Regions from separate parts of the Homo sapiens genome. Here region 2 is linked to region 1. Evidence: fine-mapped expression QTL. A gene starts in region 1. The other region holds a variant in brackets. All regions are shown on one strand. Distances are from middle to middle. Region 1 holds the start of COLGALT1 (collagen beta(1-O)galactosyltransferase 1). Region 2 overlaps COLGALT1 (collagen beta(1-O)galactosyltransferase 1).

The links.
Region 2: its variant is fine-mapped to the expression of COLGALT1 in whole blood (TOPMed, PIP above 0.99).

Annotation. Positions count from the first base shown.
Region 1 is chr19:17,550,839-17,559,162 of GRCh38, forward strand. It overlaps COLGALT1 (collagen beta(1-O)galactosyltransferase 1), which reads left to right and starts at 4,811. Exons shown (of 12, transcript NM_024656.4): 1 at 4,811-5,135. The coding sequence starts at 4,876. It overlaps NIBAN3 (niban apoptosis regulator 3), which reads left to right. Exons shown (of 15, transcript NM_001321827.2): 15 at 948-2,802. The coding sequence ends at 1,060. RefSeq lists a silencer at 4,889-4,978.
Region 2 is chr19:17,577,203-17,585,526 of GRCh38, forward strand. COLGALT1 (collagen beta(1-O)galactosyltransferase 1) reads left to right here. Exons shown (of 12, transcript NM_024656.4): 7 at 1-69; 8 at 159-265; 9 at 755-887; 10 at 2,280-2,407; 11 at 3,497-3,703; 12 at 3,975-5,955. The coding sequence ends at 4,242. Among named protein-coding and RNA genes, the nearest start is that of COLGALT1, 26 kb to the left of the region's middle. RefSeq lists enhancers at 2,694-2,903, 2,738-3,032. The variant C/T (reference allele first, on the strand shown) is at 3,740.

The DNA.
Region 1 (8,324 bases):
CATACTTTTTTTTTTTTTTTTTTTTTTTCAAATGCAGGTTCCTGTGGGCAAATCCCGCAATGGGAACCCTCAGAATTTAAAGTATGTGTGTTTGTCATTTCAACAGAGGGCTGTCCACCAGGGTAGCCTCACTGGTGCCCCTCACCTTTGTCCGGGAGGTTTAGGAGCTGCTTTTAGCTCCTTTTCTGAGAACCTTCTCTCCTATCCTTCACCCTTTCATCTTTTGGCTGCTTATACATTTCTTTTTCTTTTTATTTATTTATTTATTTATTTTTTGAGATGGAGTGTCGCTCTGTCACCAGGCTGGAGTGCAGTGGCAGCATCTTGGCTCACTGTAACCTCCACCTTGCGGGTTCAAGCAATTCTCCTGCCTCAGCCTCCCCAGTAGCTGGGATTACAGGCGTCCACCACCACGCCCGGCTACTTTTGTATTTTTAGTAGACATGGGGTTTCACCATGTCGGCCAGGCTGATTTTGAACTCCTGACCTCAGGTGATCCACCTGCCTCGGCCTCCCAAAGTGCTGGGATTACAAGCGTGAGCCACTGCACCCGGCCTACATTTCTTTTTTTTTATTTTTATTTTTTGAGATGGAGTTTCGCTCTTGTCACCCGGGCTGGAGTGCAATGGCGCGATCTCGGCTAACTGCAACCTCTGCCTCTCGGGTTCAAGCGATTCTCATGCCTCAGCCTCCCGAGTAGCTGGGATTACAGGCGCCCACCACCATGCCCAGCTAATTTTTGTATTTTTAGTAAAGATGAGGTTTCACCATGTTGGCCAAGCTGGTCTTGAACTCCTGATCCTTGGTCTCCCAGAGTGCTGGGATTACAGGCATGAGCCATTGCGCCCAGCCAACATCTCTATTAACTCTGATTTTTTAAGCACTTATTACATGCCAGGCATCTGACACATCTGATTTTTGACGTCCGTATATTTTCCATTATACAGATGAGGAAACTGAGGCTGAGCGGGAAGGAGGGGCTTGTCCCAGGCAGCCAGACTCTGGTGCCCAGATCCAGCCACTCTGCCCACCGCCTTCTCCAGGAACATTCCGGAGCTGAATCTTCACCCACATCTATCTTGTTTCTATTGGATAAATGTCTACAAGTGGAATTTCTGGGCCAAAACGGATGTGCCATCTTTAGGCTTTTGTAACCCCTGCAACTTCAGAAAACTGTACCATTTTATACTCCAAGCAGCAGCATTTATTTGTGTATTTTCCCCAAGGCTTTCTTTATTTTAATTTTTTTTTTTTTTTTGAGACTGAGTCTTGCTCTGTCACCCGGGCTGGAGTGCAGTGGCAGGATCTCGGCTCACTGCAACCTCCGCCTCCCGGGTTCAAGCGATTCTCCTGCCTCAGCCTCCCGAGTAGCTGAGATTTCAGGCACCCGCCACCATGCCTGGTTAATTTTTGTGTTTTTAGTAGAGATGGGGTTTCACCATGTTGGCCAGGCTGGTCTCGAACTCCTGTCCTTAAGTGATCTGCCCCCCTCAGCCTCCCAAAGTGCTGGGATTACAGGTGTGAGCCACCACACGTGGCCTAATTTTTTTTTTTTAAATAATAGAGACAAGGTCTCGCTATGCTGCCCAGGCTGATCTCAAACTCCTGGACTCAAGCAATCCTCCTGCCTTGGCCTCCCAAAGTGCTAGGATTATAGGAGTGATCCACTATGTCCAGCCTCCAAATCCTTTCTAAACACTAGGACTTTTCATGAAAAGAAAAAAGCTATGCCAGTTAGACACACACAGAAATCTCATGATTTTATTTTGAATTTCTTTGACTAAATTGAACTTACAAATAAGTTTATTATGGCCAGGCGTGGCAGTGCACACCTGTAATCCCAGCACTTTGGGAGGCTGAGGCGGGCAGATCACTTGAGCTCAGGAGTTCAAGACCAGCCTGGCGAACATAGTGAGACCTCATCTCTACAAAAAATACAAAATTAGCGGCCGGGAGTGGTGGCTCACGCCTGTCATCCCAGCACTTTGGGAGGCTGAGACAGGTGGATTGCTTGAGCCAAGGAGTTTTGAGGCCAGCTTGGGCAATGTGGTGAAACCTGTCTCTACTAAAAAATAAAATAAATAAATAAATAAATAAATAAATAAATAAATAAATAAAATTTAAAAGAAGCTGGGCTGAGATGGGAGATTTACCTGAGCCTGGGAACTCAAGGCTGCAGTGAGTGGTGATTGCACCACTGCACTCCAGCCTGGGTGATGGGAGTGAGACCCTGTCTCAAAAAACAAAATCCAAATATGTTGATTAGCCATTTACATGTTTGTAGTTTTTTTTTTTTTAATTTCAGTGAATTGCCTGTTCATAGCTTTTTTCTACTTTTCAGGAGTGTTTGCATTTTTCTTATTGATATCTAATAACTCTTTATATCTGAAGGATATGAACGCTTTGTGATACAGGTTACAGATTTTGGGGTTTTTTTCTCCGCTTGCTGTGAGCCTTTTGGGTTTGTTTCCTAGCTCCAAATCTTAACTTGGTGTCAAGTTTCCTGGCTGGGAGACAAGCTTTTACCGACTTCCTCTGCTTGCCAGCAAAGTCATCTGCTAACTGGATATTGGCAGCTTCTCTGCTGTCTTGCAGCTGCTTCCGGAGTGGGTTCCACAGGGATTCCCGTGTGTTCTTGGTTCAGCTTGCAGAGGGACTTTCACACTCCCTGGAGACCGTTTCCTCCCATTCTGTCTGGAGTTTTCGGCCTACCCCAAGACAATGAGATATTCCTGACCTTTCCACCTATTTCCCTCCAACCCCACCTTCCGAAATACATTTGCTCAATACATTTGCACTTCATAGGCTTCTTTAGCTGTCTTCCTTTTACCCCGGACGGGATGTAGATGTTAATTCTGGAACAATTGCAGCTACAAGAATTTGTCATCCTGCCCCTTTTGAGAAAAACATTGTTTGCCCTTGGGTCTAAATCCTTCCAGATGGGATGGGATGTATCTTGTCACCTCCTTTTTCTTACTTAATATGAAAAGACCTTTCCTCATCAAGTCCACAGAGTGTAAATTTGTTTTTACCTTTTTTTTTTTTTTTTTGAGACGGTGTCTCACTCTGTCACCCAGGCTGGAATGCAGTGGTGCGATTTTGGCTCACTGCAACCTCCACCTCCTGGGTTCAAGTGATTCTCCTGCCTCGGCCTCCGTAGTAGCTGGGATTACAGGCGAAGCGCCACCATGACCGGCTAATTTTTTGTGTTTTTAGAAGAGATGGGGGCTTCACCATATTGACCAAGCTGGTCTCGAACTCCTGACCTCAAGTGATCCGCCTGCCTCAGCCTCCCAAAATGCTGGGATTACAGGCGTGAGCCACTGCACCTGGCCTGTATCATTCTTAAAAATTAAGTTTTAGCGGGGCATGATGGCTCACTGGTAATCCCAGCAGTTTGGGAGGCTGAAGGGGGAGGATTACTTGAGACCAGGAGTTTGAGAACAGCCGGGGCAACATAGCGAGACTCCATCTCTACAAAAAATTTAAAAATTAGCTGGGCGTGGTTGAGTGCACTTGTAGTCCCAGCTACTTGGGAGGCTGAGGCAGGAGGATCAGTTGAGCCCAGGAGGTTGAGGCTGCAGTGAGCCATGATCATGTGATCATGCCACTGCACTCTAGCCTGAGCCACAGAGTAAGACCCTCTCTGTGAAAATAATAATAAGCTGGGCGCGGTGGCTCACGCCTGTAATCCCAGCACTTTGGGAGGCTGAGGTGGGCGGATCAGGAGGTCAGGAGTTCGAGACCAGCCTGGCCAATATGGTGAAACCCCATCTCTACTATAAACAAAAATTAGCCGGGCGTGGTGGCGCGTGCCTGTAGTCCCAGCTACTCAGGAGGCTGAAGCAGGAGAATCGCTTGAACCCGGGAGGCGGAGGTTGCAGTGAGCCGAGATCGCGCCACTGTACTCTAGCCGGGGCAATGGAGTGAGACGCTGTCTCAAAAAAAAAAAAAAAGAAAATAATAATAATAATAATAATAATGTTCAGATGTATTTTTTAAAGTTTTTATTGTTTTTAAAAATAGAGGCACGGTCTTGCTATGTTGCACCACTGCACTCCAGCCCGGGCAACAAAGCCAGACTCCGTCTCAAAAAAAAAAAAAAAAAAGTGTGATACTAAGTCAATCAATTTGAAAATGCGGCTCTAGAGTATTGGAAAACAATCCCTTGACAGCGTTTCCATGAAAACATGGCCCTTGTCTCTGGAAGAGCTTGTGCCCAGAACGGTCCATTATCATGCCCTGGCTCTATTTTCACGCCAACCCTATAGGGTCTCTATGATCTCATTTTATAGATGGACAGACTGAGGCTCACATATAGCAAGCCCAAGGCGGGGACTGAATGTGACGCCAGGTCTGTGGACGTCATGACCTTTATTCTCCACAACCCTCAATGACATCCCTGTGAGATCCAAAACCAGGATGGCAAAACCCACGTTGCAGCAGAGGAAACTGAGGCTAAGGTCTCTTGGGTCCCAAACCAGGTCCTAAGTAGCCAAGTCCGCCTGGTGGCACAGCCCGGGTTTTATACATGGGGAAATTGGGCGGCGCATCTGGCGGAGGTCTCAGTGGTAGGAGGCGCCTGGAGGAAGCGCGGGTTCCTAACCCTAACGCTACCCCTAACATCCCTTCCACGCGCTCCGAGCGCTATGTGCCTTTAAGATCGGTGCGGGGGCGGGGCGTCCTGGGTAGGGCTGCAGGTGACGTCACTCCGGGCCTTGGGACTCGGAGAGCGTCTGGAGGCGGGGCCTGGACTTCACGCCCGGCGCGCTCCTCCCCTTTAAGGCGCGCGGCCGGGCGGGGCCCCTATGACCCCTTTAAGGCGCGGCCAGAGTCCTCCCGCAGAAAAACGACTTAAAGGAGACGCGTGGCGCGATGGCGGCGGCCCCACGCGCGGGCCGGCGGCGCGGGCAGCCGCTCCTGGCGCTGCTGCTTCTGCTGCTGGCGCCACTGCCGCCGGGGGCCCCGCCGGGCGCCGACGCCTACTTCCCCGAGGAGCGCTGGAGCCCGGAGTCGCCCCTGCAGGCGCCGCGCGTGCTCATCGCGCTGTTGGCGCGAAACGCGGCCCACGCGTTGCCCACCACGCTGGGCGCACTCGAGCGGCTGCGGCACCCGCGGGAGCGCACGGCGCTATGGTGAGTCGAGCCCGCTGTCCCCATCAGGCGGGTCACGCGAGCCCCTGCTTGCTGTCCCCATAGGGGTGGGTCCACGCGAGCCCCTGCCCGCTGTCCTCTTCTGGGCGGGTCCGCGCGTGCTTCCTGCTCGCTACCCCCATCGGGACGGTTCTACGCATGCCCCTGCCCGCTGCCCCCATCGGGACGGGTCCACGCGTGCCCCCTGCCTGCTGTCCTCCCATGGGGCCAGACACAGCCCTCCCCACAACACAAGCGGGACCGAGTTCCTCCTGCTGGCTCCTTTGGGGTGGGCTGGGCACCGCTTCTGCCTGCTGGACCCTACTAGGGCAGCTCCGGCCTCACTAACTGGGGCTCTAACTCCCTCTGGGGCACGTACACCTCCAAAGGACGGAGCCCAGAGCCCCCACTGGGGCGTTGCCAGAGGCCACATCTAACAGCAAGCCTTTCTGTGCCGGCTGCTGCCCTTAAGCTTGAACTCAGCCTGGCTCCAGGCCCCAGTCAAACCCCTGCCCTCAGACCGGCGTGGGTGGAGTCCAGGACCAGATGGCCCAGGAGGAAGTGGATGCTTTCTTGGTAGGGAATGGGGCAGAGCTCTGAAGAAACCTTTGACTGGTGACTTCTCACTCCCTGCCTCAGTTTTCTCAAATGGAAAATGGGTCCGGGTGCAGTGGCTCACGCAGTAATCCTAGCAATTTGGGAGGCCAAGGTAAGCGGGTCACTTGAGCTCAGGAGTTCGACACCAGCCTTGCCAACATGGCAAAACCCCGTCTCTAGAAAAAAAATACAAAAATTAGCCAGGTGCGGTGGTGTGTGCCTGTAGTCCCAGCTATTCAGGAGGCTGACGCAGGAGAATCGCTTGAGCCCAGGAGTTCGAGGCTGCAGTGACCTATGATTGCACCACTGCACTCCAGCCTGGGCTACAGAGTAAGACCTGCCTCTAAAAAAAGAAAAAGAAAAGAAAATGAGCGTATTAATATAATTCTCTTTTTGGGTTTGTCTCTGAAGATTATCCAGTTAATGGATGTGGAGCCCTTGGGTCTGGCATGGGCTTGGCTCTCAGTGATTTTATTATCATGATTACTGTCATTGCTGGTGTTATTGTCAACTTAATTTATTGGGCAGAATTAGCTTTTGGCACTACGGTCAAACTAAACTCCCAAATGTCGCTTTTCCTTCCACCTGATTTCTCAGTCTGGATAATCCAAATACACAATTGGTACTTAACAAATGTTTGTTGAATGAATAATTGACTGCAGCCCACTGAAGTGGTGTGGCTCACAGGAGAAGATGAAGGCAGGGTAAGGGATTTATGAGATATACTTTGAGATATACTTTTTTTTTTCTCTCAGACGGAATCTTGCTCTGTCGCCCAGGCTGGAGTACAGTGACACGATCTCAGCTCATTGCAACCTCCGCCTCCGGGTTCAAGTGATTCTCCTGCCTCAGCCTCCCGAGTAGCTTGGGATTACAGGTGCGCACCACCATGCCTGGCTAATTTTTGTATTTTTAATAGAGTCAGGGTTTCACCATTGTGGCCAGGCTTGTGTTGATCTCCTGACCTCATGATCTGCCTGCCTCGGCCTCCCTAAGTGCTGGGATTACAGGCATGAGCCACAGCGCCCTGCTGAGATATACTTTTTTTTTTGATACAGGGTTTTACATCTGTCGCCCAGGCGGGAGTGCAGTGGTGCAATCCTAGCTCACTGCAACTTCCCCCTCCTGGGCTCAAGTGATTCTCCTGCCTCAGCTTCTTGAGTAACTGGGACTACAGGCGTATGCCACTGCGCCCAGCTAATTTTTGTATTTTTTCTAGAGATGGGGTTTTGCCCTATTGGCCAGGCTGGTCTCGAACTCCCGAGCTCAAGTGACCTGCCCACCTCGGCCTCCCAACATATTGGGATTACAGGCGTGAGCCATTGCACCCAGCTGGTTTCTGATATATACATTTCATTTTTTAATATTTTTTATTTATTTATTTTTTGAGACTGAGTCTCGCTCTCGTTGCTGAGGCTGGAGTGCAGTGGCACGATCTCGGCTCACTGCAACCTCCTCCTCCCAGGTTCAAGCGATTCTCCTGCCTCGGCCTCCTGAGTAGCTGGGATTACAGGTGCCCGCCACCACACCCAGCTAATTTTTTGTGTTTTTAGTAGAGATGGGATTTCACCATGTTGGCCAGGCTAGGCTCAAACTCCTGGCCTCAAGTGATTCACCCGCCTCGGCCTCCCAAAGTGCTGGAATTACAAGCGTGAGCCACCATGCCCGGCCTAATTTTTGTATTTTTAGTAGAGATGGGGTTTCGCCATGTTGGCCAGGCTGGTCTCAAACTCCTGACCTCAGGTGATACACCCGCCTCGGCCTCTCAAAGTGCTGGGATGACAGGCGTGAGCCACCGTGCCTGGCCTGATCTATACATTACAAAAATTGCCGTGTGCGGTGGCTCATTCCTGTCATCCCAGCACTTTGGGAGGCTGAGGCAGGTGGATCACCTGAGGTCAGGAGTTCGAGAGCAGCCTGGCCAACATGGCGAAACCCCATCTCTACTAAAAATGCAAAAATTAGCTGGGCATGGTGGTGGGCACCTGTAATCCCAGCTACTCGGGAGGCTGAGGCAGGAGAATTGCTTGGACCTGGTAGGCGGAGATTGCAGTGAACCAAGATTGTGCCACTGCACTCTAGCCTGGGTGACAGAGCAAGACTCTGTCTCAAAAGAAAAAAAAAATTAAGTGACACATATTTGTTAGTGAATGTGGTTTGCAAGATCTTAGATGCTCAGTAATAAAACAGCCAATCACTAATGGGTCTTTCCAAAATCAGCTTGTTTAATCCTTCCACTTCCCAGTAAACTGGGTCCTGTTCCCACCCCCATGTTACAGATGAGGAAACTGACATGGAAAGGGAGAAATGGGCCGGGCGCGGTGGCTCACGCTTGTTAAGTCCAGCACTTTGGGAGGCCAAGGTGGGCGGATCACGAGGTCAGGAGATCGAGACCAGCCTGGCCAACATGGTGAAACCCCGTCTCTACTAAAAATACAAAAAAATTAGCCGGGTGTGGTGGCGGGCGCCTGTAGTCCCAGCTACTTGGGAGGCTGAGACAGGAGAAGGCGTGAACCCGGGAGGCGGAGCTTGCAGTGAGCCGAGATCGCGCCACTGCACTCCAGCCTGGGCAACAGAGCGAGACTCTGTCTCAAA
Region 2 (8,324 bases), 26 kb after region 1:
CCGCCCGCAGAGCCCTCCCGCTTCATCTCGGCTCCCACCAAGACACCGGACAAGATGGGCTTCGACGAGGTGAGCTGGGCCTTCCCTGGAGGCGGGGCGGGGGCTGGAGGGCCCTTGTTTGCAGGGGCTGATCTGGCTGGGGACTCTCCGGGCTGCAGGTCTTCATGATCAACCTGAGGCGGCGGCAGGACCGGCGGGAGCGCATGCTGCGGGCGCTGCAGGCACAGGAGATCGAGTGCCGGCTGGTGGAGGCCGTGGACGGCAAGTGAGTCCGAGGCCTGGGGGTGGGGGGGCGGGTCCGCACGTGGATGTGGGTGTAGACCTCGCTGGTAGACGGCAAGTGATTCAGATGGGGGCGGGCGTGGTGTCCAAACAGATGTAGACCTCGTCAGTGGGCGTCCTGAAGGGGAAGTGAATGGGACCCTGGGGAAGGGGCAGATCCTCACAGTTGTAGACCATGGAAGGCAAGTGAGTCCTGACCCAGGGGAATGGGTAGGTTTGCATGCTGCCAGTGTAGACTGGTGGGGACTGTGGAGGGGTAAGTCAGTCAGACCCCAGGAGAGGAGGAGAGCAGGTTTGCCCGCGAGTGTATACCATGTGCAGGTGAGTGAGGCCCCATGTGCCCGGAAGGGGTGCCAGTGCTACAAGAGGTGGACCAGCTGCTCAACGCCGCAGGGGGTGGTGGAATGGCCGGGGATGGCAGAATGGCAGGCAGGGTGAACCTTCTTCGTGACCCTCTCCTCCTCCTCTCCAGAGCCATGAACACCAGCCAGGTGGAGGCGCTGGGGATCCAGATGCTGCCTGGCTACCGGGACCCCTACCACGGCCGGCCCCTCACCAAGGGTGAGCTGGGCTGCTTCCTGAGCCACTACAACATCTGGAAGGAGGTGTGTCCTGAGTGATGGGCGGGGCCAGAGTTATGACTCTAGATCTCATCGGAGATTTGGACGGGAAAGGGGTTGAAAGAGTTCCCCAAAGCCCCGGCTAGGCATCCAGCCTCAGCCATGGGACCCATGGCCTCTCTTTAGTGAATGATGCGCCACACCAGCTGTATCACCCCCAGGTGTACCTGCCATCCTTCCATTGCGCAAATGTGGAAACTGAGCCTGGGGGTAGGGGTGAGCCCTTTTGAGCAGCAGGTGGTGTCTGGGGCCTGGGACCTGTAAACAAATCCTCATTACTCCCAGCCTGGTCTCTGTGCTTGATGTTTAGTACTAGAAGTCATGGCCACAGAGCCACTTTAAACCAGCACCTGCCCAGTGCTGCTGGGGGCACTCACCAGCCCAGGCATCCTCATCCACCCTCAGAGGGAGAGGCTGTGATTGGAGGAGGGTGTCTGACTAGGCTTCGAACTTGGGCCATCAGGGCCGGGCATGGTGGCGCACACCTGTGGTCCCAACTATTTGGGAGGCTAAAGTGGGAGAGTGGCTTGAGCCCAGGAGTTAAGGCTGCAGTCAGCCAAGATCGTGCCACTGCACTGCAGACTGGACAGCAGAGCAAAACCGTGTCTCAGAAAAAAGAAAAATGGCTGGGCGTGGTGGCTCATGCCTGTAATCTCAGCACTTTGGGAGGCCGAGGCAGGCGGATCACCTTAGGTCAGGAGTTCAAGACCAGCCTGGCCAACATGGTGAAACCTAGACTCTACTAAAAATACAAAAATTATCTGGGTGTGGTGGTGGGCACCTGTAATCCCTCTACTTGGGAGACTGAGGCAGGAGAATCACTTGAACCCAGGAGGCAGAGGTTGCAGTGGGCTGAAATCATGCCATTGCACTCCAGCCTGGGCGACAAGAGTGACACTCCATCTCAAAAAAAGAAAAATAAAATCCGGGCGTAGTGGCACATGCCTGTAATCCCAGCTGCTCAGGAGGCTGAGGCAGAATTACTTGAACCTGGGAGGCGGAGGTTGCAGTTGAGATCGTTCCACTGCACTCCAGCCTGGGCGACAGGGCGAGACTCCGTCTCAAAAAAAAAAAAAAAGAAAAAGAAAAGAAAAACTTGTTATCGAATGTGAAGCCAAATGGGGGTGTGCGGCTGCAAGGCGGGAGGTGCATGAGGCGTGGGCATTTGAGGGGCTGGGAGGCCTTTCTCTTCTGAGATCCATTATGGACGGCAGAGGGCAGAGGTTTGGATGTCCAGATGTCCCTGGAGCTAGGAGAGGCAGGGAGATGCACTGGCTTCTCTACGGGTCTTTCAAACCTTCTCAAAGCAAAGCTCTGTGCTTTAGGGTCAGGCCTGGCCTTGGCCTCCCTGTGATGTGGCGGGGCTTCCTCCCTCAGGTGGTGGACCGGGGGCTGCAGAAATCGCTTGTGTTTGAGGATGACCTGCGTTTTGAGATCTTCTTCAAGAGACGTCTGATGAACCTCATGCGGGATGTGGAGCGGGAGGGCCTGGACTGGGACCTCATGTGAGTGGGGGTCTGAGGATGGGGTGAAGCTGGGGCCTGGGGCAAGGCCAGGACTTAGAGGTGGGGGTGGGGGCAGGGTGGAGCTGGGACCTGGGGATGGGTCATGGCTTAGAGGCGGGGCTTGAAGGTGGGGTGGAACTGGAGCCTAGGTACATGGCCAGGGCTTAGAGGTGGGGCTGGGAGGCGGAGTGGAGCTGAATCCTACGGGCGTGGCCACAGCGCTGCAGCTGAGCCTAGAGCCTGTATGTCTGGGTGTGGTCAGGGTGGCAGGCGTGGCCAACCCTTGGAAGCGTAGCAGGAGGGCTCACGTGGTTCCTGGGCCTGAAGGCACTGTCAGGGCTGTAGCCTATAGGGAAGGGCGTTGGAAGGATCACCCAGAACTCAAGGGACCTGGCCGGAAGCCTGCAGGCTTGGTCAAGGCTTAGAGACTTGACTGAGGCCTGTGGAGGTGGATGTGGCTAAAATTTGACCGGGCAGCCTGTGGGCGTGGCTGAAGAGCATGGGGGTGTGGTCAGAGCTGGAGGTGTGGCCGAAGAGTGTGGGGGCGTGGCCAGGGCGCCTGGTCTTAGACAAGCCCCTGGATGGGAGTGCCACCAACATGTTTCCAGCACTGGAGCCGTCCTTCTCTTCTGTAAGTGGGCTGGTTTGTCCTCTCCCTTCCTCCATCTCTTTTTTCCCTTCCATGTGCAGTGCCCTAATCTGCATTCTGGGAACACTGCCCCATGTGAATAGTAACTGCACCCCTCCATTCCTGACTGCCCCCCCATCAGGGCACCTCGCCCACCTCCACCCCCACTGTCCTCTGAACTCAGAGCAGCTTCAGCCTCAGAGAACGTCTGCGTGATCCTGCTCTCCCCAGCTCCAGATCCTCCATGGCTCCCTCACGCCCTTTGGAAAAACTCACTCTTCTCCCCCATGACCGCCAGACCCCTGGGCTCCTGCATTCACTCCATCCAGTCACAGAGCTCTGCAAACATGCTGAGCCTGCTCCCATCCCAGGACCTGACGGGGTAACTAGATCCCTGGCTTTCTGGGCAAGCTCCCTCCGGAGGGCGGGAGGAGAGTGACAGGCCCGATCTTGCACCCCAGCTATGTGGGCCGGAAGCGGATGCAGGTGGAGCACCCCGAGAAGGCTGTGCCTCGCGTGAGGAACCTGGTGGAGGCCGACTATTCCTACTGGACCCTGGCCTACGTGATCTCCCTGCAAGGCGCCCGCAAACTGCTGGCTGCTGAGCCGCTCTCCAAGATGCTGCCTGTGGACGAGTTCCTGCCCGTCATGTTCGACAAACACCCAGTGTGAGAGGGGCAGGCGGCTGCTGGGCTGGGGTTTCA[C/T]GGTGGGTCTGTCCTGGGAGAATGGGGATGTGAGACTCACGGCCTCCGAGAAGATGTCTCTTCTTTTGCCTACTTCTCCCTCCGTTTGCCCCCTCGCAGATCTGTCTCCATTTGTATCCCCTGCACACTTACGTTTTAATCTGTCCCCGCTGACTTCTTCACCCCCAATTTTTCCTCCAGCTGTCCCGTCCCCTGAAGCCATTGCTGCCCCTCACTCCCCTCCTCCTCCCCCCAGGTCCGAGTACAAGGCCCACTTCTCCCTCCGCAACCTGCATGCCTTCTCTGTGGAGCCGCTGCTCATCTACCCCACACACTACACAGGAGACGATGGCTATGTGAGTGACACCGAGACCTCAGTCGTATGGAACAATGAGCACGTCAAGACCGACTGGGACCGCGCCAAGTCCCAGAAGATGCGGGAGCAGCAGGCACTGAGCCGTGAGGCCAAGAACTCGGACGTGCTCCAGTCCCCACTGGACAGTGCTGCCCGGGATGAACTCTGAGGGGTAGCAGCCAGAAAGCCAAAGCAGCCATCGGTGGCCCAGGCTCCACGTGCTTACTGAGGACATCAGGTCCACCTCTGGACCCCTTGGCAGGCCACAGAGGGCTCTCGTGTGGGGTGGTGTCCAGCCAGCTCTTGCTAAGCAATCACGTGCACACAGGCAGCATTAATGGAGTGCCTACTGCATGCCAGCAACAGGGCTTGGCCCTGGGGAATTGGGAGGAACCAAGCCCTCTTCATCTGTTCATGTGCCCAGCATTTATTAAGCACCTGCTGTATGCAAGGTTCCCATGTTACGGCAGTGAATGAGGCATAATTGTTCCCTCCATCAGCGATTGATTCAGTCATCAAGCAGTTACTGATCAGATTAAGAATCAGGCACTAGTGATACACATTCATTTTTAAAATTCATTCAAGGATTTATTGAGTGCCTACTGTGTGTTGGGTGCCATTCCAGGCTCTGGGATTTTTTTTTTTTTTTTTTTAAGAGTAGAGTCTGTCTCTGTCACCCAGGCTGGAGTGCAGTGGTGTGACGGCTCACTGCAGCCTGCGCCTCCCAGCGTCCAGCAATTCTTGTTTCTCGGCCTCCCAAGTAGCTGGGACTATAGGTGCGTGCCATCACATCTGGCTAGTTTTTGTATTTTTAGTAGAGACGGGGTTTCACCATGTTGGCCAGGCTGGTCTCGAACTCCTGACCTCAAGTGATCTGCCCGCCTTGGCCACCCAAAGTGCTAGGGTTACAGGCATGAGCCACTGTGCCCAGCCCAGGCTCTGGGAATATTGAGATAAATAAGATGCTTCTATCCATTTATTCAAGCACATATTGGTCACCTACTGTGTGCCTGGCACTCATGTCACAAAGATAAGTTCCTGATTCGGTACACTTACTGAGCACCTGCTGTGTGCAGGGAGCTGAGCTATGGGATGGGAATGGGAGTAAACAAGGTACTTTTTACTTTTTTCTTTTTTTCCTCACTGCTAGACGGTGTGGGAACTTCTCACTCATTGGCTTCTTTCCCACACACCTGAAGAGCACTGACTGTGTGCCGGGCACTAGTGATACAAAAGAGTGTGACAGTTGTTCAGTCTGCATTTTCGATCATGGGCTACATGCCGAGTGCTGGGGCACAGAGATGAACAAGATCGGTTCCTTCACTTCTTCATGCCACAAGTGTTTATTGAGCACCTGTGTGCCAGGCCTCACAGACTCCCAGTTGGGTTGAAGAATGGTTGACTGAGTTTGATTCTTCCTGTACCCTCGGTCGTCTGAGCTGTGTGCAGACAACATCCCCCCACCACCCAAGAGGGAGGGTAGCTCTTCCGCCACCAGGGGCAAGCACAGGTCCTGGTGGCCCCACGCCACATGTTAGCCCCCCTGGAGGGGGCGCCAGTTGGAGACGGGGGCTGGGTGTCCCTGGCCCACTCCCGGTCCCCTGTGCTTTACCTCCTTGCCCTTGTGTCTCAGGTGTGGTCCCTGCCTGCTTGATGAAGTTGCTCTGTTCAAGCCTTTGGTGGGATCATGTGTTTGGGGGCTTTTAGGGGACCCAGCTGCACTGGGGCACTGCCCGTGGCCTGGGTAGGACATTTCCCAGCAAGGGCTGGAGGAGTTGCCGTGCCTTCAGCCTGAATCGAATGTCAGAACCAGCCAGCGGTGCTTCACCCTCTTGGGGATAACTTGCTTAGTTTTTTAATAAATGTTCCTGGTTGGTTTTCACAGCAGTTTGTGGGATTTTGCTCGGCACCAAAACACTGCCCACGTTCCCCACCCCTGGATGGCCGACAAGATTTGGGAGGAAACCAGGGCAGGTGCAGTAGGGAAGCTGCCCAGTGGGGCCTGGCATGGTGGCTCATGCCTGTAATCCCGGTGCTTTGGGAGGCTAAGGTGGGCGGATCACTTGAGGTCAGGAATTCAAGACCAGCCTGGCCAACATGGTGAAACCCCCTCTCTATTAAAAGTACAAAAATTAGCCTAGTGTAGTGGGGCGGGGTGGCGGGGGGGGGGTACCTGTAATCCTCGCTACTTGGGAGGCTGAGGCAGGAGAATCGCTTGAACCTGGGAGGTGGAGGTTGCAGTGACCCAAGATTGAGCCACTGCCCTCCAGCCTGGGCGGCAGAGCAAGACACAATCAAACCAAAAAAAAAAAAAAAAAGCTGGCCAGTGGAGCTACTGTGGGGTGAGGGTGTGGTAAGAGCCCTGTGTCCCCTCATGCCATAAAACTTCCCCCAAACAGGCGGGGGACCGACAGCTCTGTCTTGAGTCAACTTCAGGATCCTTCCACATGACTTCGAATAAAGAGGGGCTGTCGTGCTTTGAGTCCCCCTAAAACAGACCTCAACATGAGGATTAGGGCTGGGCATGGTGGTTCACGCCTGTAATCCCAGCACTTTGGGAGGCCAAGGTGGGTGGATCACCTGAGGTCAGGAGTTCGAGACCAGCCTGATCAATAAGATGAAATCCCGTCTCTACTAAAAATGCAAAAAGCAGCCAGGCATGGTGGTGTGTGACAGTAGTCCCAGCTACTTGGGAGGCTGAGGCAGGAGAATCGCTTGAACGCAGGAGGTGGAGGTTGCAGTGAGCTGAAATCTTGCCACTGCACTCCAGCCTGGGCAACAGAATGAGACTCCATCTCAAAAAAAAAAAAGGATTAGGCTGGGTGAGGTGGCTCACTCCTATAATCCCAATGCTTTGGGAGGTTGAGGAGGTGAGAGGATTGCTTGAGGTCAGGAGCTCAAGACCAGCTTGGGCAACAGAGTGAGACCCTCGTCTCTACAAAAAAAATTGAGAAATTAGTTGGGCATGGTAGGGCACACCTGTAATCTGGCTACTCAGGAGGCTGAAGCAGGAGTATCTCTTGAGTCTAGGAGGTTGAGGCTGCAGTGAACCATGATCACACCACTGCACTCCAGCCTGGGCAACAGAGCAAGACCCTGTTTCTATAAAACAAAACCAGAAAACTTCCCTGAAATAGCCCAGGGACAGGTGGCCAACTTCATTCTATCTTGGATCAACCACAGGATCGTCGCAGATGACTTCAAATGAGGAGGGGCTGTCATGGTTTGGGTCCCCTGAAACAGACTCCAAGATGAGGATTGAAGGGCACTTACGTTATCAGTGACCCCAGGAACTTGCTGTGGAGCAGTAGGGAAGTGAGACAAGAAGGGAAAGAGTGGTCCCACCCCAGGGAGAGGGGGCTGGACATTACAACATGCCCAGTTGCATTTGGATTTTCTGGGTCAAATGCTTACAAATCCTCTGGATTATTACACCTTTAGGGTGTGCAAGAATATACCCGAGACTTTTATAAACTAACACAGGGGCCAGGCGCGGTGGCTCACACCTGTAATCCCAGCACTTTGGGAGGCCGAGGCTGGTGGATCATGAGGTCAGGAGTTCGAGACCAGCCTGGCCAATATGGTGAAACCCCGTCTCTACTAAAAATACAGAAAAATTAGCTGGGCATGGTGGTGAGCGCCTGTAGTCCCAGCTACTTGGAGGCTGAGGCAGAAGAATCACTTGAACCTGGGAGGCGGAGGTTGTAGTGAGCCGAGATCACGCCACTGCACTCCAGCCTGGGCGACAGAGCAACACTCTTGTCTCAAAAAACAAAAAACAAACAACAACAAAAAACCCTAACACTGATGGTGTTCAATCAGTGTGGAAAAAATCAGAACTTACAGCTAAGCAAATTGACAAAGCAAAAATTAAATCACACCTTTTCAGACACAACTAACATTTTCAAAAACTTTCCAGCCTTCCTTATTTGCATGGTGTAAATATATATGCATTTTTTAAAAAAGGAGGACCATGTTACCTAAGCTACTGCAACTTGCCGTTTTATTTTTCGTGGAATGCACTTTTATTTTCTAAGCATGGGATCAAACTGTACCTATTTTTTAAAAAACAACTTTTATTTTTAAATTTAACAACTATTGTGGACCTCCTTTCCAAAATAGGGTTAACATCTACGAGCTCTTTTTGGATTGTTATGGAAAATATTCCCTGCTGTTTCCTGCAGTGGATAGCATTATACAATACATCTTTCCTACTGGATTTTTTGTTTTTTTGTGTTTTTTTGTTTGTTT